3 linked regions of the Homo sapiens genome follow. The protein of the gene in region 3 purifies or fractionates together with the protein of the main gene of each other region. This does not show direct contact. Each region holds a gene or a part of one and is shown on either strand. Other genes may lie near its edges. The genes, in order: CHP1, EHD2 and GPAT4.

Region 1 (7,191 bases), on a different chromosome or scaffold from region 3:
CCCACCCTTGAGAATGTACTTTGTGAGATCCACCCCCTGCCCACAAAACATTGCTCCTAACTCCACCGCCTATCCCAAAACCTGTAAGAACTAATGATAATCCACCACCCTTTGCTGAACTCTCTTTTCCGACTCATCCCACCTGCACCCAGGTGAAATAAACAGGCTTGTTGTTCACACAAAGCCTGTTTGGTGGTCTCTTCACACGGACACGTGACAGCAGGGAGGGTATACGTGGGGTGGCTCCTCTTCGGGGTTATGACAAGCGAGGCCCAGCGTAGGCAGTGTAGGTCCACTGTGCTTGCCAAACACCAAGAGGGCTGTCATCTGGGTGGATTCTTAGAAATGCAGATTCCTGGCCTGGCACGGTGGCTGTAATCCCAGCACTTTGGGAGGCTGAGGCGGGTGGATCAGCTGAGGTCAGGAGTTCAAGACCAGCCTGGCCAACATGGTGAAACCCCAATCTCTACCAAAAATACAAAAATTAGCCAGGTGTGGTGGCACGTGCCTGTAATCCCAGCTACTCAGGAGGCTGAGGCAGGAGAATTGCTTGAACCTGGGAGGCGGAGGTTGCAGTGAGCCAAGACTGTGCCATTACACTCCAGCCTGGGCAAGAGTGAGACTCCATCTCAAAAAAGAAATGCAAAGAAAAAGCCATGTAAAACCAGAGTATGTCACCGCTGAGGCTGCACATGAATGAGGAGGTGGGCAATTTAAGGAATGGACATATACTGGATTTTTAGGCTTTTTCTACATTTAAGGAGTCAGGGAGTCAAGAATAGAAATTGCGTCTTAGCTGGAATGAATGGGAAGTGGCCACGGCTGACAAAACCATGTCGAAGCCAAAAGTGCTGGCCCCTCGATGAATGTTTCCACTTCATATATCCAGGCAGCAGCAGAGTAGACTGCAGCTGACCGTACAGACATAAACTTGAGTAAGGGAGACACTGTGATTTCAAACTTGAAGGGACTAAGTTACATAAAATTCTTGTAAAATGGACAAAAGTTATTTTGTTTCAACCACAAGTATTTATTGATGGATCGAAGATACAATTTTAATGGAACAATAAGGCACAACCGTGGATTAAAACACTTTGCTATACAGCCAAAAGGGGGGAAAATCTATAACCTTAGGAACTTTATGCCAATCAAGAAGCCTCTAAAGTACCTCTCTAATAGATCAGTATCAGACATTCTTCCCTTTTACATAATTCCTATATTACATCACTTAATCATAAAATCTGACTGATACTTCATAAAGAATTCCTCATTCATTTATATTTGAGCCATCCAGCCTGGCTACTCCCCTGTTCTCCACCCTTTTCCATCACTTTGCAGTGGTATTTTTTAGCAATCTTCAATAGTTTTCCAAAGCAAGGAAACAAGCAAGCAAGCAATGAGTCAGAAAGTCAACCAAGGGCAGATGTGTGGCTAAATACACTCATAGAGACATACATTAGGATAGCAATAGCCTGATTCACTGAAGTCTAAACTAAGCTGACTTGGCAGAAAAGTTGCTGTGGCTCGCTCAAAGATCTGTAATGCCACCTTAGGTTGTGCTACTAGTGCCAGACCTCTTGTTTTTAAGGGATTAGCAGTGGTCTAAACAAGAAGCCAGGGAGCTAATGTAACCAGGCAGCTAATGACACAACAGTCAATGCTTTGGACATGTATTAGGAGCAGACTATGGCTTCCGTCATTAACATTTGCCAAGTGTAAAATTCATAAAGAATTTTGCGGCTGAGCACGGTGGCTCATGCCTGTAATCCCAGCACTTTGGGAGGCCGAGGCAGGAGGATCACCTGAGGTCAGGAGTTCAAGACCAACCTGGCCAACATGGTGAAACTCCCTCTCCACTAAAAATGCAAAAATTACCCAGGTATGGTGGCACACGTCTGTAATCCCAGCTACTTGGGAGGCTGAGGTGGGAGAATTGCTTGAACCCAGGAGGCAGAGGTTGCAGTGAGCCAAGATCACGCCACTGCACTCCAGCCTGGGTGACAGAGTGAGACTCCATCTCAAAAAAAAGAATTTTGTGCAAAACTTCAAGACACTAAGGAAACAATCTTTAAATATTTTGGACTGGGGCCAGGCGTGGTGGCTCACACCTGTAATCCCAGCACTTTGGGAGGCTGAGGCAGGCGGATCACGAGGTCAGGAGTTCGAGACCAGCCTGGCCAACATGGTGAAACCCTGTCTCCACTAAAAATACAAAAAATTAGCCGGGCATGGTGGTGCACACCTGTAATCCCAGCTACTTGGGAGGCTGAGGCAGGAGAATCACTTAAATCCAGGAGGCTGAGGTTGCAGTGAGCGATCGCACCACTGCACTCCAGCCTGGGTGACAGAGCAAGACTCTGTCTCAAAAAAAAAAAAAAAAAAAAAAAAAAATTTGGACTGGGATATTAGGCACTTCCGTAACACTAATATTTCTACTTGGAAATGTGAAGTGGAAAACATTCCAGTGCACATAACACTGAGGCATAAACCATGCTGCAAAGGTGTGAATGCATGAGGCTTTATAGGGTGCCCAGCCTCCTTATTAAATAAAAGCCATGAGAAAGTCCCTAGGCATATTGTCAGAGCAGCCATTCTGGTGGTAACGGTGTCCCCAAACTAAGCAAACCTGTAAGCATACTGCTGCTTTTTCAACAGTCAACATTGCACTAACAAGAGGAGCCACACAGGTACAAAGTTGAGAATCAGAGGCCAGAGATAGAGTGATGTGGGCAAGCAACCTAGAAGACTTGGCTCCATACCTCTCACCAAGGCCACCTTTCAAAAAGGGTATCTCCACCCAGCAGCCTTTGATGACAGAGCAGAGTGCAGAGGATGGTCTCATACTTCTGAGAGAAGTATTGATTACCAAAAAGCTCCTGAAGAGGCAACATCCCAGAGGCCCATTTAATAATGAAGGTAAATAAAAACTGCCAGACCCCTGAACTATCCTGCCAAGTCAGAAATACATATATAGGACATAGCTTGTGGTGCCAAGTAGAACAGAGGAGATTTTGAGGCTTAATGAAAAGCAGAAAGACTGCCAGAGTAAGTGAACAGTATGTTGGAAGACAGGGAAGTAGGAAGCAAAGAACATATAAAAAGGATGAAGAAGCATGCTGGCAGACTCGCTGGAGGGAAGGCAGCAGGGCTACAGTCTACATCTGGTGAAAGAGCTTTGCTGGCTTGTTCTTGGCATGATTGCCTCTCTCACTTTCTCAGACTGGATGGATGTGTGGCATTCAGCAGCAGAATGGGGAAGATGATATTTATAAATGAAGAACTAGTGAATGGATACTGAACAGAAATATATAGGGTGTACCATTCTGTAATGCCCTGTTTATACACCAAAGGCAGGTTTGTGTTGACAGAACATATTTGGGGTTGTCATGCAACAGCAGTAGTACTTTGGGAGAAGGGGAATGAGGGGGTGGAGGTGGAGTTGGTAGAAGGAGGACTTTCAAGTTCCAGTTCTTAAATACTAGACCGCAAGGAACAGTTTGGTCTCCTTTAGTGAAGAAATCGGATGCTCATTTTCTGTTCTACATCCACCTTCTCCAAAACCTGGGGGAGAAAACCAGTAACAGTTACAAAGGTTATGAAGATTACAACACTCCCAAGCTCTTATCTGAGTAATGTTTTCCCCCCTTCCTCCTGTGCAGTAAAACGTAACTTTTTTTTTTTTTTTTGGAGGCAGAGTCTCACTCTGTTGCCAGGCTGGAGTGCAGTGGTGTGGTCTCGGCTCACTGCAACCTTGGCCTCCTGGGTTCAAGCGATTCTCCTGCCTCAGCCTCCCAAGTAGCTGGGATTACAGGCACGCGCCACCACGCCTGGCTAATTTTTGTATTTTTAGTACAGATGAGGTTTCACCATGTTAGCCAGGCTGGTCTTGAACTCCTGACCTCGTGATCCGCCCACCTTGGCCTCCTAAAGTGCTGGGATTACAGGCGTAAGCCACCGCGCCCAGCCACTAAAACGTAACTTTTTCAAACAAGAAGTAAGTGACCAACCTTAACAAATTCTGTGAAAGATATGGCACTGTCCCCATCCTGATCAGCCTCCTGAATGGTCCTGTCTGCGATGCTGCCCAGCTGCTCATCTGAGATATTTACTCCGACCATCATGCGTAGCACCTGGAAGACCAAGAGCCAGGAATTACAAGGGCCTTGGGAATCAGAGGGACTCTTTACTAAGATTAAAAATAAAGCTATCACCATCCTCCTTTTCCTTTGATGCCCTCAAATACAGTCATGCACTGCATAATAATGTTTTGGTTAATGACCGACTGCATATATAATGGTGGTGCTATAAGATTATAATACTGTATTTTGATGAGAACACATAGACACAAAAAGGGGAACCACAGACACTGGGGCCTACCAGAGGGTGGAGTAGGAGGTGAGAGAGAAACAGAAAAAATAACTACTGGGTACTAGGCTTAGTACATGGGTGGCGAAATAATCTGTACATCAAACCCCCATGACAAGAGTTTACCTACATAACTAACCTGCATATGTAGCCCTGAACCTAAAAGTTAAATTTTTTTTCCTTTTTTTTTTTTTTTTTTGAGACGGAGTCTCACTCTGTTGCCCAGGCTGGAGGGCAGTGGCACGATCTCAGCTCACTGCAAGCTCTGCCTCCCGGGTTCACGCCGTTCTCCTGCCTCAGCCTCCTGCGTAGCTAGGATTACAGGCGCCTGCCACCGTGCCCGGCTAGGCTAATTTTTTGTATTTTTAGTAGAGATGGGGTTTCAGCATGTTAGACAGGATGGTCTCGATCTCCTGACCTCGTGATCCGCTCACCTCGGCCTCCCAAAGTGCTGGGATTACAGGCATGAGCCACTGCGCCCGGCCAAAAAATTTGTTAAAAAAGATTACAATACCATATTTTTACTGTACCTTTTCCATGTTTAGATGTAAGTATTTGTTTTTGGGTTTTTTTTTTGAGACAGGGTCTCGCTCTGTTGCCCAAGCTGGAGTGCTGGGTTGCGAATGTGGCTCACTGCAGCCTCACCTCCGAAGCTCAAGTGATCCTCTCACCTCAGCCTCCCCCAAGGAACTGGTACTACACTACAGGTGTGTGCAACCATGCCTTTTTTTTTTTTTTTTCCTGAGGCGGAGTTTCACTCTTGTTGCCCAGGCTGGAGTGCAATGGCACGATCTCGGCTCACTGCAACCTCTGCCTCCCCAGTTCAAGCGATTCCCCTGCCTCGGCCTCCCGAGTAGCTGGGATTACAGGGATGTGACACCACACCCAGCTAATTTTTGTATTTTTAGTAGAGATGGGGTTTCGCCATGTTGGCCAGGCTGGTCTCGAACTCCTGACCTCATGATCTGCCCGCCTCCGCCTCCCAAAGTGCTGAGATTACAAGTGTGAGCCACTGCGCCCAGCCACTTGGCTAATTTTTCAAAATTTTTTTGTAGGAATGAGGTCTCACTGTGTTGCCCAGGCAGGCCTTCAACTCCTGGGCTCAAGCAATTCTCCCTCTGCCACCTCCCAAAGTGCCGAGATTATAGGCGTGAGCCACCATGCCCAGCCACAGATATGTTTAGATACACAAATACTTACCATTATGTTACAACTGCATATAGTAGTCAGAACAGTAACTTGCTGCACGGGTTTGTAGTCTAGGAACAATAGGCCACACCACATAGCCTAGGTGTGTAGTAGGCTATACCATCTAGGTTCATGTAGGTACATTCTATGATGTTCCTACAACTACAAAATTGCCTAACATTGCATATCTCAGAATGTATCCCCATCTTTACCATCATGTGACTAAGTAACAGCTAAAAGGCTGAAACCTTTATCTTCTCATCTAGGCAATGATGTAAGCAGAACTTATCTAGGTGACTGGATAAGAAGACAAAGACTAAGGGAGAGTCCTTTGCATTTTGCCCTTCCTCATTCTTCTTACCTCATTCTGTCTGGTGGCACTGCAGCCACCCTGGAGCCATGAGGTGAGTAATATGAGCTATGGATGCCAGGGCAGGAACACAGAATAAGCCTGGTTCCTGGACATCAGTTAGGTACTGTACCAGCCTGGACAATCTATGCCAAACATTCTTGTTGCGTGAGCCTAACTAGTTCCTTATTGATTTAAATCAGTTTGGTGGGGCTTTCTGAAATCCCACCCAAAATGTCGTCCTCTTCGAAGTGCTGCATTAAGCCAACTATTCCTAAAGTATGGCCCAAGAAAACATAAAAATCCTTGAAGAGTTAAATGCTAAATCCCCTTCTGAGAAAAATAACAAGCACAATTAAAAGGCTGCGAGAATTGAGTAAGAGAATTTAACACTGTTTCACCAAATCTGTCTTAAACTTAACCAATCCTTGGGCCCCTGGGAATTCTATTAACACCTTTAGGGTGTGAACATACTTTGAAAATTGCTTCCTTAAACAAAATAAGCAACTTTAACAATTTGACTGTCAGGCAATATGGAAAGGCTGGTTCTTAGGCAATATGAAATGGGAGACAGGGTACCTTTCTGACTCCTTATATTATTATTGCAGTCAGCCACCTCTGTCTTCAGATGGCAAGAACTGAGCTTTTCCACAGAAAGGAAAGGGCCTCTAGCCCAGTGGCTCATAGACTTCCTTTCCTCCACTCCTTTACTCCCTTCTACAATCTCATGAAATAGATTCTTTTTTTTTTTTTTGAGATGGAGTCTCACTCTGTTGCCCAGGCTGGAATGCAATGGCACGATCTTGGCTTACTGCAACCTCTACCTCCCAGGTTCAGGCGATTCTCCTGCCTCAGCCTCTCGAGTAGCTGGGATTACAGGTGCCCAACAGCATGCCTGGCTAATTTTTGTATTTTTAGTAGAGACGGGATTTTGCCATGTTGGTCAGGCTGGTCTCGAACTCCCGACCTCAGGTGATCCGCCTGCCTCGGCCTCCCAAAGTGCTGGGATTACAGGCGTGAGCCACTGCGCCCGGCCTGTAATTTACTTTTTAAAAATCGATTTCATGGGCCGGGCATGGTGGAGAAACCCCATCTCTACTAAAAATACAAAATTAGCTGGGCGTGGTGGTGCATACCTGTAATCCCAGCTACTCGGGAGGCTGAGGCATGAGAATCGCTTCAACCCGGGAGGCAGAGGTTGTGGTGAGCCAAAATTGCACCATTGCACTCCAGGCTGGGCAACAAGAGCGAAATTACAAGCCAGGTGTGGTAGTGCATGCCTATAGTAC
Region 2 (8,071 bases), on a different chromosome or scaffold from region 3:
AAAAAAAAAAAAAGCTAGCCAGGCATGGTGGCATGTGCCTGTAGTCCCAGCTACTCTAGAGGCTAGGCAGAAGGACCTTTGAGCCCAGGAGTTCAAGTACACAGTGAGCTATGATCACCCCATTGCACTCCAGCCTGGACAACAGAGTCTCTGAAAAATATATAAATAAATCTCTAAAAAATATATAAATAAATTTTTAAACGTATATATTTTATTTTATTTATTTATTTATTGAGACAGAATCTTACTCGGTCACACAGGCTGGATTGCAGTGGTGTGATCTCAGCTCACTGCAACCTCTGCCTCCCGGGTTCAAGGGATTCTCCTGCCTCGGCCTCCCCAGTAGCTGGGACTACAGGCACGCAACACCATGCCCAGCTAATTTTTGTATTTTTAGTACAGACGGGGTTTCACCATGTTGGCCAGGCTGGTCTCGAACTCCTGACCTCAGGTGATCCACCCGCCTTGGCCTCCCACAGTGCTGGGATTACAGGCATGAGCCACTGCACCCAGCTGTGTATATTTTAAATATTTATATTTTACAAATATAAATATTTAAGTCTCAAATAAATAAATGAAAATAAAATAAACAGTGTTCTTAAAGAGACTACTCTTTTCTTCCCCTTCCCAACTTCCTTTTCTTTTTTTTTTTTTTTTTGAGACGGAGTCTCGCTCTTTTTGCCTAGGCCGGAGTAAAGTGGCGCTATCTTGGCTCAGTGCAAGCTCCGCCTCCCGGGTTCACACCATTCTCCTGCCTCAGCCTCCCGAGTAGCTGGGACTACAGGCGCCCACCACCACACCCAGCTAATTTTTTGTATTTTTAGTAGAGACGGGGTTTCACCGTGTTAGCCAGGATGGTCTTGATCTGCTGACCTCGTGATCCGCCCGCCTCGGCCTCCCAAAGTGCTGGGATTACAGGCGTGAGCCACCATGCCTGGCCCCCTTCCCAACTTCTTGCTGGCTGGAACGCAGACACAATGGCTGGAGCCTTCACAGCCCTTTTGTACCATGAAGTTCCTTGGGCCTGGAGGCCAGGCATGGAAGAGAAATAAGACAGAAGGGGACTAGATCCCTGGCTCTGTAAAGCACCAAACCAGTCCTGGATCACTTTCTGGGACTTTTTATGGAGGAAAGAAAGAAAAACTCTCTATCTTAATTTAGCCACTGTTATTTTGGGTTTTCTCTTCACTCCCCTAGCCTGACTCATAAAACCATGCTCCCACGGAACTATTTGAGGGAGGCGCTTTCCAGAACCTGCCATCCATCCCTCTGGCTTTTGAGGTCCCATCTCAGAGCTTCCAGAAACCAACCTTCCCATCACCCACCCCCAACATTCCCTCCTGGGCAGCTTCCCACCTGCATTTTCTGGCAATCAGGAAAGTCCCCAGGGGAGATGTGATGTTCCAGCTGAATCTTCGCAAAGATGACGGGCAGTTTGAGGATCAGCTGCTTCTTCTTGTTCTCCTTCCCAAACACAGAGGGCATCTCCTTCTTCAGGTAGCTGATGATGTAAGCGTGAACCTGTGGGAAGGGTTCTCACCTCAGCCTGCATCAGGGTCCACCAGGGAGCTTGTTAAAACACAGGCTGCAGGCCCCACTCCCAGAGATTCTGATTTACTTGGTCTGGGCTGGGGCATGAGAATTTGTATTTCTTTTATTTCTTTTTCTCTCTCTCTCTCTCTTTTTTTTTCTTTGAGACGGAGTCTCGCTCTGTCACCGAGGCTGGAGTGCAGTAGCACAATCTCGGCTCACTGCAACCTCCGCCTCCCGGCTTCAAGCAATTCTCCTGTCTCAGGCTCCTGAGTAGCTGGGATTACAGGCATGCGCCACTATGCCCAGCTAATTTTTGTATTTTTAGTAAAGATGGGGTTTCACCATGCTGGTCAGGCTGGTCTCAAACTCCTGACCTCGTGATCTGCCCACCTTGGCCTCCCAAAGTGCTGGGATTACAGGTGTGAGCCACCGTGCCCAGTCTTTTTTTTTTTCGAGACAGAGTCTCGCTCTGTTGCCCAGGCTGGAGTGCAGTGGTGCAATCAGCTCGCTGCAACCTCCAACTCCTGGGTTCAAGCAATTCTTCTGCCTCAGCCTCCCAAGTAGTTGGGATTAACAGGCATGCGCCACCACACCCGGCTAATTTTTTTGTATTTTTAATAGAAACGGGGTTTCTCCATGTTGGCCAGGCTGGTCTTGAACTCCTAATCTCAGGTGATCCACCCGCCGTGGCCTCCCAAAGTGCTGGGATTACAGGCATGAGCCACCGCGCCTGGCCTGCTTTTTTTTCTTTTTTTTTTGGAGACAGGGTCTCGCTCTATCACCCAGCCAGGAGTGCAGTGGTGCGATCATAACTTACTGCAGCCTCAAATTCCTGGGCTCAAGGGATCCTCCCGCCTCAGCCTCTCAAGTAGCTGGGATTACAGGCAAGAGCCACTGCCCAGATGGGAATTTGCATTTCTGACAAGTTACAGGTGCTGCAGGCGGAGGTGCCACACTGTGAGCCTCATGGCCTCCTCCTGCTGGGGCTCACCCTGGGCTCCTCCTCTCTGCTAACTAAGTGAGCTGAGTCCCTCCCAGTTTTAAACACCCCTCCAAGAGGTCCACTCCCGAATCTGCATACCAGCCTAAGCCTCTCCCTCCAGCTCAGGACTCAGAGCTAATTGCCCTGTCAACATTCCTGGATAGCTCCATACCAGGATGCCCTAAGTGGAATTTGAGCCTAGCCCTCAGAGCTGTGTCGCCCTCAGCTGTGCCCATCTCTGAAAAGGGCATCCCCAGCCCTGCCTTCCCAGTTGAGGCCAGAAATCTAGAAATTTTATTTTTATTTATTTATTTATTTTGAGACGGAGTCTCACTCACTCTGTCACCCAGGCTGGAGGACAGTGGCGCAACCTTGTCTCACTGCAACCTCCACCTCCGGGTTCAAGCAATCCTCCTGCCCTGGCCTCCCGAGTAGCTGGGATTACAGGCACGTGCCACCATGCCTGGTCAATTTTTGTATGTTTAGTAGAGACTGGCTTTCACCATGTTGGCCAGACTGGTCTCGAACCCCTGACCTCAAGAGATCCACCCGCCTCGGCCTCCCAAAGTGCTGGGATGACAGGCGGGAGCCACCCCGTCCGGCTCTAGAAATCACTTTTTTTTTCTTTTTGAAAGGGAGTCTCACTCTGTTGCCCAGGGTGGAGTGCAATGGCATGATCTTGGCTCACTGCAACCTCCACTTCCTGGGTTCAAGCAATCCTCCTGCCTCTACCTCTCGAGTAGCTGGGATTACAGGTGCCCGCCACCACTAATTTTTGTATTTTTAGTAGAGAGGGGTTTTCACCATGTTGGCCAGGCTGGTCTCAAACTCCTGACCTCAAATGATCTGCCTGCCTCAGCCTCCCAAAGTGCTGGATTACAGGCGGGAGCCACGGTACCCAGCTCTTGAAATCATTATTGATTTGATATTTGATTCTTCCTCCTGTTAAGTAGCCACATCCAACCTATCAATGAGTCCCTTTTGCCTCCTCCTATGTCTCTCCCTCTCTCCCCTACTTTCCTTTTCTTTTTTGCTTTTTTTAGACAGGGTCTGGCTCTGTCCCCCAGGCTGGAGTGCAGTGGCACAATCTCGGCTCAGTGCAACCTCCACCTTCCCAGCTCAATCCATCCTCCCACCTCAGCCTCCTGAGTAGCTGGGACTACAGGCACCCGCTACTACGCCCAGCCTCTCCCCTGCTTCTCATTTCTCTCCACCTCAGTGGCCACCATGTCCATTCGAGCGTCATCCTCTCTTGCCTGGGGAGACACCCAAGGTGGCCCGACAGGTCTCCCAGCTCCCCATCCTGCCCCAATAACCCTTGCTCCATGCAGCAGTGGCCCAAGAGGGCATTTTTCAGGAAGGAACATGAGCCCAGGGGATGCTGCTCATAACTCTCTATTTGCTTATTGAAGTTCAAAATTTCTACCGAAGCCGACAAAGCCCTACAGCAGCAATTCACGAAGTGTGGTCCAGGGAAACCCAGGGGTCCTCAAGATCCTTTCGGGGGTTCCTGTGGTCAAAATTATTTTAAGAACAATACTAAGACGTTATTCGCTTTTTGCTTTCTTCACTCTTTTTTTCTCCCAAATGGACAGTGGATTTTTTTTTTTTTTTTTTTTTTTTGAGACAGAGTCTTGCTCTGTCACCCAGACTGGAGTGCAGTGGTGCAAATAATGACTTTATTTATTTATTTATTTATTTATTTTTTGAGACAGAGTCTCACTCTGCCGCCCAGGCTGGAGTGCAGTGGCTCAATCTCGGCTCACTGCAAGCTCCACCTCCCGGGTTCACGCCATTCTCCTGCCTCAGCCTCCCAAGTAGCTGGGACTACAGGCGCCCGCCACCATGATAATTTTTGTATTTTTAGTAGAGACTGGGTTCCACCATGTTGGCCAGGATGGTCTCGATCTCTTGACCTTGTGATCCGCCCGCCTCAGTCTTCCAAAGTGCTGAGATTATAGGCATGAACCACCGCGCCTGGCCTAATGTCTTGATTTATTAATCTTCTCTTCTCAAGAGGCTGAGATGGGAGGATCACTGAAGCCGGGGAGGTCAAGGCTACAGTGAGCCATGATCATACCACTGCACTCCAGCCTGGGTGACAGAGCAAGACACTGTCTCAAAAAAAAAAAAAGGAGCCCCAGAAGGGCTGGAAACTTGTCTGTTCCCTCCATCTCCAGCACCAGTACAATCTGTACAGAAAACACTCAGGAAATATTTGTGGAATAAACCAATGAACTTGAGAACCTTTGAAACACAATCTTTTTATTTTTTATTTTTTATTTTTTTTTTGAGATGGGGTTTCACTCTGTTGCCCAGGCTGGAGTGCAGTGGTGCGATCTTGTCTCACTGCAACCTCTGCCTCCTGGGTTCAAGCGATTCTCCTGCCTCAGCCTCCTGAGTAGCTGGGATCACAGGCATGCACCACCATGCCCAGCTAATTTTATATTTTTAGTAGAGATGGGATTTCTCCATGTTGGTCAGGCTGGTCTTGAACTCCTGATCTCAGATGATCCGCCCACATTGGTCCCCCAAAGTGCTGGGATTACAGGTGTGAGCCACCACACCTGGTCCACAATCTTATAAATTATCGAAAAATAAACAAGGAGAGCAGAATAATGAATATTGGTATGTCTATATTTTATAGGAAGCTCACAAATTAAATATTGCTCATGCCTATAATCCCAGCACTTTGGGAAGCCAAGGGGGGAGGATCACTTGAGGCCAGAAGTTCGAGACCAGCCTGGGCAACATAGCAAGACTTGGTCTCTAAAAAAAAATTTTAAAACTAGTTGGGTGTACTGGCGCGCGCCTATAGTCCCAGTGAATTGCCGGGGCTGAGGAGGGAGGATCACTTGAGCCCAGAGGTTTGAGACTGAAGTGAGCTATGATGTCGCCACTGCACTCCAGTCTGGGCGACACAGCGAGCCTTTGTCTCTAAAAAAATGAATAAATAGGCCAGGCGCGGTGGCTCACGCCTGTAATCCCAGCACTTTGGGAGGCTGAAGCGGGTCGATCACCTGAGGTCAGGAGTTAGAGACCAGCCTGGACAACATGGTGAAATGCTATCTCTACTAAAAATACAAAAATTAGCCGGGCTGATGGTGCCCACCTATAATCCAAGCTACATGGGAAGCTGAGGCAGGAGAATCACTTGAACCTGGGAGGTGGAGGTTGCAGTGAGCTGAGACCGTGCCATTGCACCAGCCTGGGCGACAGAGTGAGACTCAGTCTCAAAACAAAATAATAATAAATAAATGCTTTTACAAAATGCAGTATATTGGCCGGGCGTGATTACAGTATATCACGCCTGTAATCCCAGCACTTTGGGAGGCAGAGGCAGGCGGATCATGAGGTCAGGAGATCGAGACCATCCTGGCTAACACAGTGAAACCCCGCCTCTACTAAAAATACAAAAAATTAGCCAGGCGTGGTGGCAGGCACCTGTAGTCCCAGCTACTCGGGAGGCTGAGGCAGGAGAATGGCGTGAACCCGGGAGGCGGAGCTTGCAGTGAGCCGAGATCATGCCACTGCACTCCAGCCTAGGCGACAGAGCGAGACTCCGTCTCAAAAAAAAAAAAAAAAAAAATGCAGTATATCTGGAAAGACACACAAGAAACTACTTATGGGGGTTGCCTCTAGAAAAGAGGCCCTGGGAGCTGGTGGGGTGAGGTGTGGGAGAATCATGTCTGATAAAGTATGAATGCCTTTCCATGAGATGGTCTTAAATGTTCAATAAAAAAGACTAGTTAAAAAATTCTTTTAGGCCAGGCACAGTGGCTCATGCCTGTAATCCCAACACTTCGGGAGGCCGAGGCCAGCGGATCACCTGAGGTCAGGAGTTCGAGACCAGCCTGGCCAACATGGTGAGAACCCATCTCTACTAAAAATACAAAAATTAGCCAGGTGTGGTGGCACCTGCCTGGAGTCCCAGCTACTCGGAAAGCTGAGGCACAAGAATCACTTTAACCTGGGAGGCAGAGGTTGCAGTGAGCCGAGATCATGCCACTGCTCTCCAGCCTGGGTGATAGAGAGAGACTCCATCTAAAAAAAAAAAAATTATATATATATGTATATATATATATATATATATATTTTTTTTTTTTTAAAGAATCACAAATTTAGACTGCTGAGAACGTTGGTGGTCCCTGACTGGTTCTAAATCTTCATCTCTTCCACCTTCCACCACCACCCTGTCTCCAGCCCCGTTAGGCTCTCAGTTCAAACACATCAAGTGCATGGCTGCCCCAGGGCCTTTGCACATGCTGTTCTCACTGCATGGACTGCTCTTCCACCCGATCGCCACTCGGCTCACCCCTTCCTCTTACCCCTTCCTCTCCTTCAGAGCGCTCTAAAATAGTCCCTCGCCAGCCCCTCTTTCCTCCGCTTCATTTTTCTTCATAACCATTGATTTGTTTAATGTTTGCTTCCCCACTAAAAAGTAATTCTATGAGAAAAGGAATTTATCTGTGTTCCCTGCTGTATCCCCAGAGCCTAGAGGAGTACCACATGCGATCGGCAACTGCTGAATGAATGTCACTGGGCCACTGCAGAGAATGTGGTCTGAAGGTTCAGGGCATCTTGGCGTCTATAGAATCAGACCCTCCCAAGATCTTGGCCTTACGTATCACAGCATCATAAAATCTCCCCTTCTAACAGCTATCACTTCAGCCAAAGGACTTAGAGCCAGAGGATTCGTCCACACCCTCCATCGTACAGATGGGAAACTGAGGCACTGGGAGGAGGGTGAATGCCTCCTCCCAGAGAGTCCAGGAAGGCCTGGTATCTTTGGAGGAGAGCATGAGGGGAGGTTAACAGTATGGCTATTGTTGGTGACGACCAAGTGTGGCGGACTCATATGTGAGGAGCAGGGGTGGGGGTGCGACACGGGGCAAAGGAGGGGCAGTGAGCCTTGGTCACAGCGGACCCTAAATCCCATGCTCCTGTGTCCTGAACGGCACTGGGGAGCCATGGATGAACCTGCAGGAAGAGGGGGAGGGAGTGCCTAATGGTCTGAAGGACCAATCAGGGCAGGGGTGTGGCCGGGCTGGGGGCGGGGCCTGTGAGAGCGGGCCAATGGAGCCAGGGGGCAGGGCCGAAGGGCGGCTCCGTAGGGACCAAAGGAGGGTAGGCGGGAGGGCGCTGATGGCTTTTCCAGAGAGGAAGCAGGGGAAGGTGCCAGGAAGAGATAAGGTGAGAGGGCGGGCTGGGCCGGGGCTGGGTCCCTGACTCCGGGGTTTGTCTGGGTTTCCGGAGCCGCCCCCAGCCCGGCGGGGGCACCAGGTGTCTGGCCCGGACCCACCCCTCTGTCCCTGGGCCTTGTGCTCCAGCTCCCGCCAAGGGACCCGCGGGAACGAACCTGGGGGAGTCTAAGCAAGACCAGGAGGAAGACAGAGAGAGGGCGGCGGCGGAGCGGGGGAGAGATGGAGAGACAGGAGGAGGCAGAGCGAGAAAGAAAAGGAAAGGGAGTTAGAATAAAAGAAAAAGTAAAAATGGAGAAGAAAGAGACTGAGAGAGAGGTAGAAAGGAGACTGACATAGAGACAGAAAAAGAGAG
Region 3 (8,050 bases):
TGATCATTTTTTTTTTTTAATTCAAACAAGTCGGCCGGGTGCGATGGCTCACGCCTGTAATCCCAGCACTTTGGGAGGCCGAGGCGGGGGGATCACGAGGTCAGGAGATCGAGACCATCCTGGCTAACACGGTGAAACCCTGTCTCTACTAAAAAATACAAAAAAAAAATTAGCCGGGCGTGGTGGCAGGCGCCTGTAATCCCAGCTACTGAGGAGGCTAAGGCAGGAGAATGGTGTGAACCCGGGAGGCGGAGCTTGCAGTGAGCCGAGATTGCGCCACTGCACTCCAGCCTGGGCGACAGAGCAAGACTCTGTCTCAAAAAAAAAAAAAAAAAAAAAGTCAACAAAGGCCTGGCATGGTGGCTCATGTCTGTAATTCCGACCCTTTGGGAGGCTGAGGCGGGAGGACCGTTTGAGCCAGGGAGGCTGAGGGTGCAGTGAGCCTTGATCATGCCACTGCACTCCAGCCTGAGCCACAGATCAAGACCATCTCTATAAAATAAATAAATAAAAGTCAAGTGCAAATGTATTACGCTCCTGTTTTACAAAGCATTTTTCTATTATTGCAGATCTTCGGTTTACAAATTAACTGGAGGTGGGATCCAAACATACTAAGATTGTACAAGGCAAAATGAAGAGAGCCCTAGATGAGACTCTGTGTTTGTGTGGCATGTGTACGTGTCTGCATGTGTTTTAAAGGTGAAAAAGTACATTAAAGGACTCAGGGGAAACTCTAAGCACTTGGAAGACTCCTTCTAACTCTAAAATTCTATTCTCTTAAAAAGCCTTAATCATAGTGTACGCTATTACATGGTTTAGTGATACATGGAACGGATGATATTCCGTCAAGTTCTCTCCATGAGCACAATGACACAGTAGGAAGTAAAAGACACGTCATAATGAGGTTCTACTTTACCCAAACAAACAATTCTGCAGTACAGTTCATGTTTAACCAGGGCCAAATCATCTCCAGATAGCTTAGAGAGTTTTGTTTTGTTTTTAATAAAAGCTAACTTGTGGTGACAAGCACACACAAGAAAAGTGGGTTTTTCTTTAGCAGAAACCACTTAGCAAGTTAGGCTAGCCTCTGAAGAGCCTAGCCACAACACTCCTCACACCAAACACAAAATAGACACACAACAGTTGCCTCCTCCTCCCTCCTCTATCTTTAGGGGTAATGATTTACCATGACACTCAAATGCTGTTATTGCAGTGGTACTTCCATAAACTGGACATGCATAACAACTATTGTATTTAGGTCACAAACTCACAAAAGAAAAGTCCATCCTGAAAGTAAGTTGACAACTATGTCATCATATAAATAACCTAAACTTCCATGAAAACTCAAAGACCCCTAACATGAGGACTTGCTTGTTCCCAGCATTCCTTGGAGAGGCAGAATATCCCCATTTTAAGGGTAGGAAAATTGAGGAATAAGTACTGAATTTACCAGTCTTTGTTGAGATAAGGAAATGTAATAGCATAAATTTTGCTAGGAAATGCATATTATGGTTTTGTAAGAAAGTCTAACCCATGGTCCAAGAAGCCCAGATTCTTACCTATTAATGGCATGAAAGGCTTTCTGAGATGATGCTATTGTTCTCTCAGAAAAAGAAGAGTAACACTCTTAAGTCATTCTGGTTTCCCTTAGTAACTCTTTCTTAAATAGCCGTGAATGTTATCTACACCGTTTATAGCTTGTTCTTCTTCTCAAACTGGTATACCACTTCTAAGGTCAGAATTTTATCATGTTCCCTAAAAACTATTATCAGAACTTCTCGTCTGCCCCAAATTGATTTTTAAGAAATAATTTAAGGCATTTCTTAAAATTCTGAAATTTGGTGGAAAAGCTCATGTTCGCCTATCCAAATCCTTCATGAATGTAAGCGTCTTCATCCACAGCCTTCCTACACCATTTCTCTTTCCTGAAGGCAAGTAGTATGGGTCAGTGGAACCGCAGCCTCGAGGCAGAGGCGAGATTTCAGCCTCTTAAGACCTGCAGCTCTGGACAAGTCACTGAACTTCTCTGGACCTCCAAGGGCTCAGAAAAAAATGAAAACATTGAACAGGACGTTCCGAATGTTCTCATCCAGATCTGAAACACTTTTTTTCTTTTCTTTTTTTTTTTGACACGAGTCTCGCTCTGTCGCCCAGGCTGGAGTGCAGCGGCGCAATCTTGGCTCACTGCAACCTCTGCCTCCTGGGTTCAAGCGATTCTCCGGCCTCAGCCTCCCGAGTAGCTGGGAATACAAGTACTTGCCACCACGTCCGGCTAATTTTTGTATTTTTAGTATATGCAGGGTTTCACCATGTTGGCCAGGCTGGTCTTGAACTCCTGACTTTAGGTGATCCGCCCGCCTCGGCCTCCCAAAGTGCTGGGATTACCGGCGTGAGTCACCACGCCCGGCCATACTTTTTCTTTTAACCTGTTCTATCATGTTAAGATACCTTTTGCTGTGCTCTTTCTTCAACTCTACTGTGTTTCTTAGCTGAAGACCTCATGAGTAGGCTGTGTTCCAAAACAAAAAGCACCTTATGACTTGGTATGGTGGTTTTCATTATGGAACTGAAGCTACTTTTGACAGACTCATCTTGCATCAAGTTCTCCCTGAGACATACGGGAGGGGAAATGGGTGGGGTGTGTATGGCACAGGAATAGCCACAGTTAAGTGGCTGAGGAGGCCAGAACAAGTACATGCTGGTTCCCTATTCCATCTATTTCCCTGTGTCTGAAATTCTCCAAAATACAAAGTTAAAAAAGAAAAGAAAAGCACATCTCTTTCAAAGAGAGAAGTATATTTGATTGGCATTATTACAGGATTTTGTCTGGAGACTTTGGTATGGTATAACTGCTCTTCACACCATTTCCCTTGGATTGAGATAGAATCTACAAGACATGAAACTAAGGAGAGCTCCTCAAAGTTCAGCCAAAATTAAGGAAAATGAACCAAAAACAAAATTCCTCAAATGACCTCAAGGTTATCCATGAGAAGATCCATGGTAATACTTGGCAGAGGATGGAACTTATTTCCATCGTGCTACACCGTATGTCTCCTATAAGCTATTTTCTGCAACTTCTGAACAGCTAAACTTCAGCCCTCTGTGACATGGAAAGCGAGGAAATAAACAAGCCCCACTGGGAGAAGGATGCCTCAGAGGGTGCTGAAATAAAAAAGGAAAGGCAAGGGATTTCAGGAGTTAAGAAATCCTAAAGAAAAATGGGAGCATGCATTTGGAGAAGGAGAGGGTAAAGACATGCATCTTACGGCAGCCAGAGAACACAGGAAGGGGAATGACAGGGGAAGGCGCTTCCTGGTGCTCCAACGCCCAGCAGCCCTCGCCACCCACATCCCCGGACTCCCGGGGCGGGAGGGCTGCGCACACCTGGGACTTGGGGGAGGCGAGGGGCTCCGAGGAGCCGGGCTCGGAGAGCAGGCGAGCGGAGAGGCGGGCGGCCGGGGTTCGGGGCGGGCGCGGACCGTTCCATCCCGGACGGGGGGCACCCGCTCCACCCGCCGGGGATCCCCGGGGCGCGGCGATGGTGCCTCCTGACGCCGGCGCAGCGTCGCCGGGGCGTCCCAGACCGCAGGCCCCGCGCGGCCGCCCAAGCCCGGCTCCCACGTCCCGCTCTCGGCTCCCCGGAGGTCGGAGACTTTGAGGTAAGGGGCCAGCTCCCTCCTACTCACCGACCGCGAGGCTAGGCAGCTCCAAATCCCGCGGCGACCGCTCCCTCCCGCCCTTGCCGCCGCCGCGGGCCCAAGCTGCGTCAGGACGTGCGCGCGCCCGCCTTTGTCTGCGCCGCCCAACGTGACCCTGCGCCCACCGCCCCGCACGCTCCCGTCGGGCGCGCGCGGGCCGGCAGGGCGGGGGCCTAGGGAGAGGCGGGTGCCGCGTGGACCGGTCGCGGGTTGGGCGACCCGCGGAGTCGCCCTCTGGCGGACTAGGGGGCACTGCCGGGGGCGGGGCGGGGCAGGAGCAGGAGAGGCCGGGCCCTGGCTGTCCCTCCGCTGGCGCGTCCCTCTCAGAAAGCGGAGCGCTTCCCTGCGTTAGGACCCGATACTGGCTCCCTCCCCGGAGGTTCGCTTGTGTGTTCCGGAGAGGGTGAAATCAGGCTGGCACCGCGGGAAGAGGCTAGAGTCACTAAATCACCTTGTCCTCTTGAGGCTGCTGTCCGTATGCAGCGACATTCTGCCCGTTAGAGGACTCAGCTCAGGGCCTGGTACGCTCAAGATCTGTTAGCTACCAGCACCATCACCACGACCACCGTCATCACCAGCAGTATCCCTCAGCCTCGTCTACCTTGCTCGTCAAGCAGGGTGCTCCAGGAGTGGGTGTAGGCCACTTTCGCCCTGCCTGGCAGATGCAACTTTCCAACTTCCACCTCCACTTGGACCTGCTCTCTCTACTCAAGTCTAGCTGGTGGCTGCTGGAGTTTGCGTGTGTGTTTCTTACTATATCTTCTGACTTCGGACGCCTAACCCAAGCTTATTATCTCCCCTAAAATGGGACCTCCTTAAAATATATATTACCTTTCTTTTTCCTGTTCTTAAAAGACAGTTTGCCTTTAGTGCCAAGCCCTCTCCGCCGGTTTACGCTGTACACGGCTGTCAGATTGTCATTCCGTGCTAAATGCATAATCTGATAATGAAATCTTTAAAGTCCACATTCTTAGACCTCAAAATCTCTGTAAGAATAAAGGGCAGAGTATGGTAGTTCACGCCAGTAATCCCAGCGTTTTGGGAGGCCAAAGCAGGAGGATCGCTTGAGGCCAGGAGTTTGAGACTAGCCGGGGCAACGTAACGAGACCCCCACTTCTACAAAAATTTTGAAAATTAAAAAAAAATGGTGGGGGGAGCGGGGCGCGGGTAGCTCACGCCTGTAATCCCAGCACTTTGGGAGGCAGAGGCGGACAGATCACTTAAGGCCAGGAGTTTGAGACCAGCCTGGCCAACATGGTGAAACCCCGTCTCTACTAAAAATACAAAATTTAGCCGGGGGTGATGGCACGCACCTGTAATCCCAGCTACTCGGGAGGCTGAGACAGGAGAATTGCATGAACCCAGGAGGCAGATGTTGCAGTGAACTGAGATTGTGGCACTATACTCCAGCCTGTGTGACAGAGCGAGACCCAAACTCAAAAAAAAAAAAAAAAAAAAGAATAACCACTTAGCTCCAAAACACTGGACTACTTATCTCCACCAAATATAACTAAATGTTACCCATTTGGAACTGATCACGTATTTATTAACTCAATCACTTATCCATTCATTGAGCCCTTGTTACTCGCCCAGCTTTTTTGGGGATCCCAATTCAAGATTGAGTAATGCATGGCCACGTCTAATCGTCAACGACATTAAATTCCATAAGAGAAGAAACCACCGGGCGCGGTGGCTCACCCCTGTAATCCCAGCACTTTGGGAGGCTGAGGCGGGGGAATCACGAGGTCAGGCATTCGAGACCAGCCTGACCAACATGGTGAAACCCCGTCTCTCCGTCTCTACTAAAAATACAAAAATTAGCCGGGCGTGGTGGTGCGCACCTGTAATCCCAGCTATTCGGGAGGCTGAGGCAGGAGACTTGCTTGAACCCAGGAGGCGGAGGTTGCAGTGAGTTGAGATCGCACCACTACACTCCAGCCTGGGCGACAGAGGGAGACTCCATCTCAGAAAAAAAAAAAAAAAAGAAGAAGAAACCAGACATCATACATTTTTGTGTTGTGTTCTCCACAGTGCTAGGGATAGGGATTTAAAGTGGCCACCAGGATCTCAACTGCTCTTTGGAGTCCTTCGTCTGGTCTCCTTTTCTGCCCCCAGAACCAGTCTTGGAAGTAGCCCACTCATCTGCTGTACTCTCTTTGTGTTCTCATGGTTATATTTTCTCACAATTCTTACCATCTACTAGTTCTTTGTACATAATATTGAAATCTTAAAATATTTCACACATATTAGAGGCTCAAGAGAAAATGGTGTTCTTTGCCCAAGCAAATAGTAGGCTCAATTGTTGGGTATTAACACTGATACACACACACACCTTGTGAGTGTGCACATTCACTGGCACATTCTCTAAACTTCTCAAGTGCAGGAAGGCAATCAAACTTCCCTCTGAGTGGGAAGCCAACATGAACTAGGTAAATATAGTTCCTGTAGGCACCAAAACTTTTATCACATTCATTTCTAGGTACAAGGAATGTAAATGGGCAGATGAAACAAGCAAGTCATGCTTGAAATGCTTGACACAAAGCAGACTTATCTTTAGAGAAGGCCTCCTGCCCATAGCATGACCGAGCTATAGCCAACACTGAACTTCTTGTCGCTGTGAATATGGGCTGTCTTTAGATTATTGTTGGCAGTATTTTCACATTCTAGAATGAAAAAACTCATACTGCAGAAATTATAGGAGTAATTTTTAAAACCTGATGAAGGGTAGTCCTTTAGAAGAAAGAGATCACAAGATTTAGATCCTACCCCATACTAACTTTGAATTCATTCATAGTATGAGGGCATTTCCCCAAAATGTGTGCTCTGTACATGGTGCACAGTGCTGTGAGCCTGGGAAGAACCCCTTTCCCCAGGAGAGTACCATGCCTGTGCCGTACAACTTATCTTCCTTCCAAAGTCAACTTTAACATCTACAAAGAGTTTGCCATTCATTAAGAGGTGAATCCCTAACTGTCGACTGCACAACCAGCAACATCAATGCTCATTTCCAAGCACCAAAATAAAAAGCCAAAGAAAGTAAAATAAATATTATTTTTAAAAAATGTTTTCAATTGTGGTAGAATACGTAGAACCTAAAATTTATTATACCATCTTAATCAGTTCTTTTTTTTTTTTTTTTGAGATGGAGTCTCACTCTCTTGCCCAGGCTGGAGTACAGTGGCACAATCTCAGCTCACTGCAACCTCCGCCTCCAGGTCCAAGCGATCCTCTCACCTCAGTCTCCCGAGTAGCCAGGATTACAGGCATGCACCACCACATCTGGCTAATTTTTTTGGTGGAGGGGAGAGGGGACGGAGTCTCACTCTGTGGCCCAGGTTGGACTGCAGTGGTGAGATCTCGCCTCACTGCAACCACTGCCTCCCAGTTCAAGTGATTCTTCTGCCTCAGCCTCCCAGGTAGCTGGGACTACAGGTGCGCGCCATCATGCCCAGATAATTTTTGCATTTTTAGTAGAGATGGGTTTTCACCATATTGACCAGGCTGCTCTTGAACTCCTGACCTTAGGTGATCTACCCACCTTGGCCTCCCAAAGTGCTGGGATTACTGACATGACCCACTGGGCCTGGCCCATCTTAATCATTTCTAAGTGTACAGTTCAGTGGTGTTAAATATATTTTCATTATTATGAATCTTCAGAAATTTCCATCAAGGCTGGGGATGGTATCTAATGCCTGTAATTCCAGTTATTTGGGAGGCTGAGGCAAGTGGATTGCTCGAGCCCAGGAGTTTGAGACCAAGCCTGGGAAACATGGGGGAACCCAATCTCTAAAAAAAAAAAAAAAAAAAAAAAATTGACATTCTATGCCCATTAAAAAAAAATTTCATTTCTCTTCTCTCTACCCCCAGTAACAACCATTCTACCATTCTACGTTCTGCTAATGGGAGTTCAAGTAGTCTGCCTCATATAAATAGTCGGATTTTGTCTTTTTGTGACTGGCTTATTTCACTTAGCACAGTGTCCTCCAGATTCATCCATGTTGTAGCATGTGTCAGAGTTCCCTTTTTTTTAGGGCTAATATTCCATTGTATGTATGTATGTTTATTTTGAGACGGAGTTTTTGCTCTTGTTTCCCAGGCTTGAGTGCAATGGCATGATCTTGGCTCACTGCAACCTCCGCCTCCTGGGTTCAAGAGATTCTCCTGCCTCAGCCTCCCAAATAGCTGGGATTACAGGCATGCGCCACCATGCCTGGCTAATTTTTTTTTTTAATTTTATTTTTAGTAGAGATGGAGTTTCACCATGTTGGTCAGGCTGGTCTCGAACTCCTGACCTCAAGTTATCCACCCACTTCAGCCTCCCAAAGTGCCGGAATTACAGGCATGAGCCACTG

Evidence for each region.
Region 1: the proteins of GPAT4 (region 3) and CHP1 purify together in Homo sapiens (co-immunoprecipitation; 2 studies listed by BioGRID and IntAct, with this or other methods). This does not show direct contact.
Region 2: the proteins of GPAT4 (region 3) and EHD2 purify together in Homo sapiens (affinity purification with mass spectrometry; 2 studies listed by BioGRID and IntAct, with this or other methods). This does not show direct contact.

Annotation. Positions count from the first base shown.
Region 1 is NC_000015.10:41,275,706-41,282,896, reverse strand, and holds the end of CHP1 (calcineurin B homologous protein 1), read right to left. Parts: intron 4,131-7,191; coding exon 4,008-4,130; intron 3,562-4,007; coding exon 3,508-3,561; 3' UTR 1,010-3,507; downstream 1-1,009. UniProt on the Homo sapiens protein: Calcium-binding protein involved in different processes such as regulation of vesicular trafficking, plasma membrane Na(+)/H(+) exchanger and gene transcription. Involved in the constitutive exocytic membrane traffic.
Region 2 is NC_000019.10:47,729,819-47,737,889, reverse strand, and holds part of EHD2 (EH domain-containing protein 2), read right to left. Parts: intron 1,522-8,071; coding exon 1,357-1,521; intron 1-1,356. UniProt on the Homo sapiens protein: ATP- and membrane-binding protein that controls membrane reorganization/tubulation upon ATP hydrolysis. Plays a role in membrane trafficking between the plasma membrane and endosomes. Important for the internalization of GLUT4.
Region 3 is NC_000008.11:41,573,915-41,581,964, reverse strand, and holds the start of GPAT4 (glycerol-3-phosphate acyltransferase 4 isoform 1 precursor), read right to left. Parts: upstream 3,766-8,050; 5' UTR 3,687-3,765; intron 3,660-3,686; exon of another isoform or gene 3,597-3,659; intron 3,450-3,596; exon of another isoform or gene 3,385-3,449; intron 1-3,384. UniProt on the Homo sapiens protein: Converts glycerol-3-phosphate to 1-acyl-sn-glycerol-3-phosphate (lysophosphatidic acid or LPA) by incorporating an acyl moiety at the sn-1 position of the glycerol backbone. Active against both saturated and unsaturated long-chain fatty acyl-CoAs.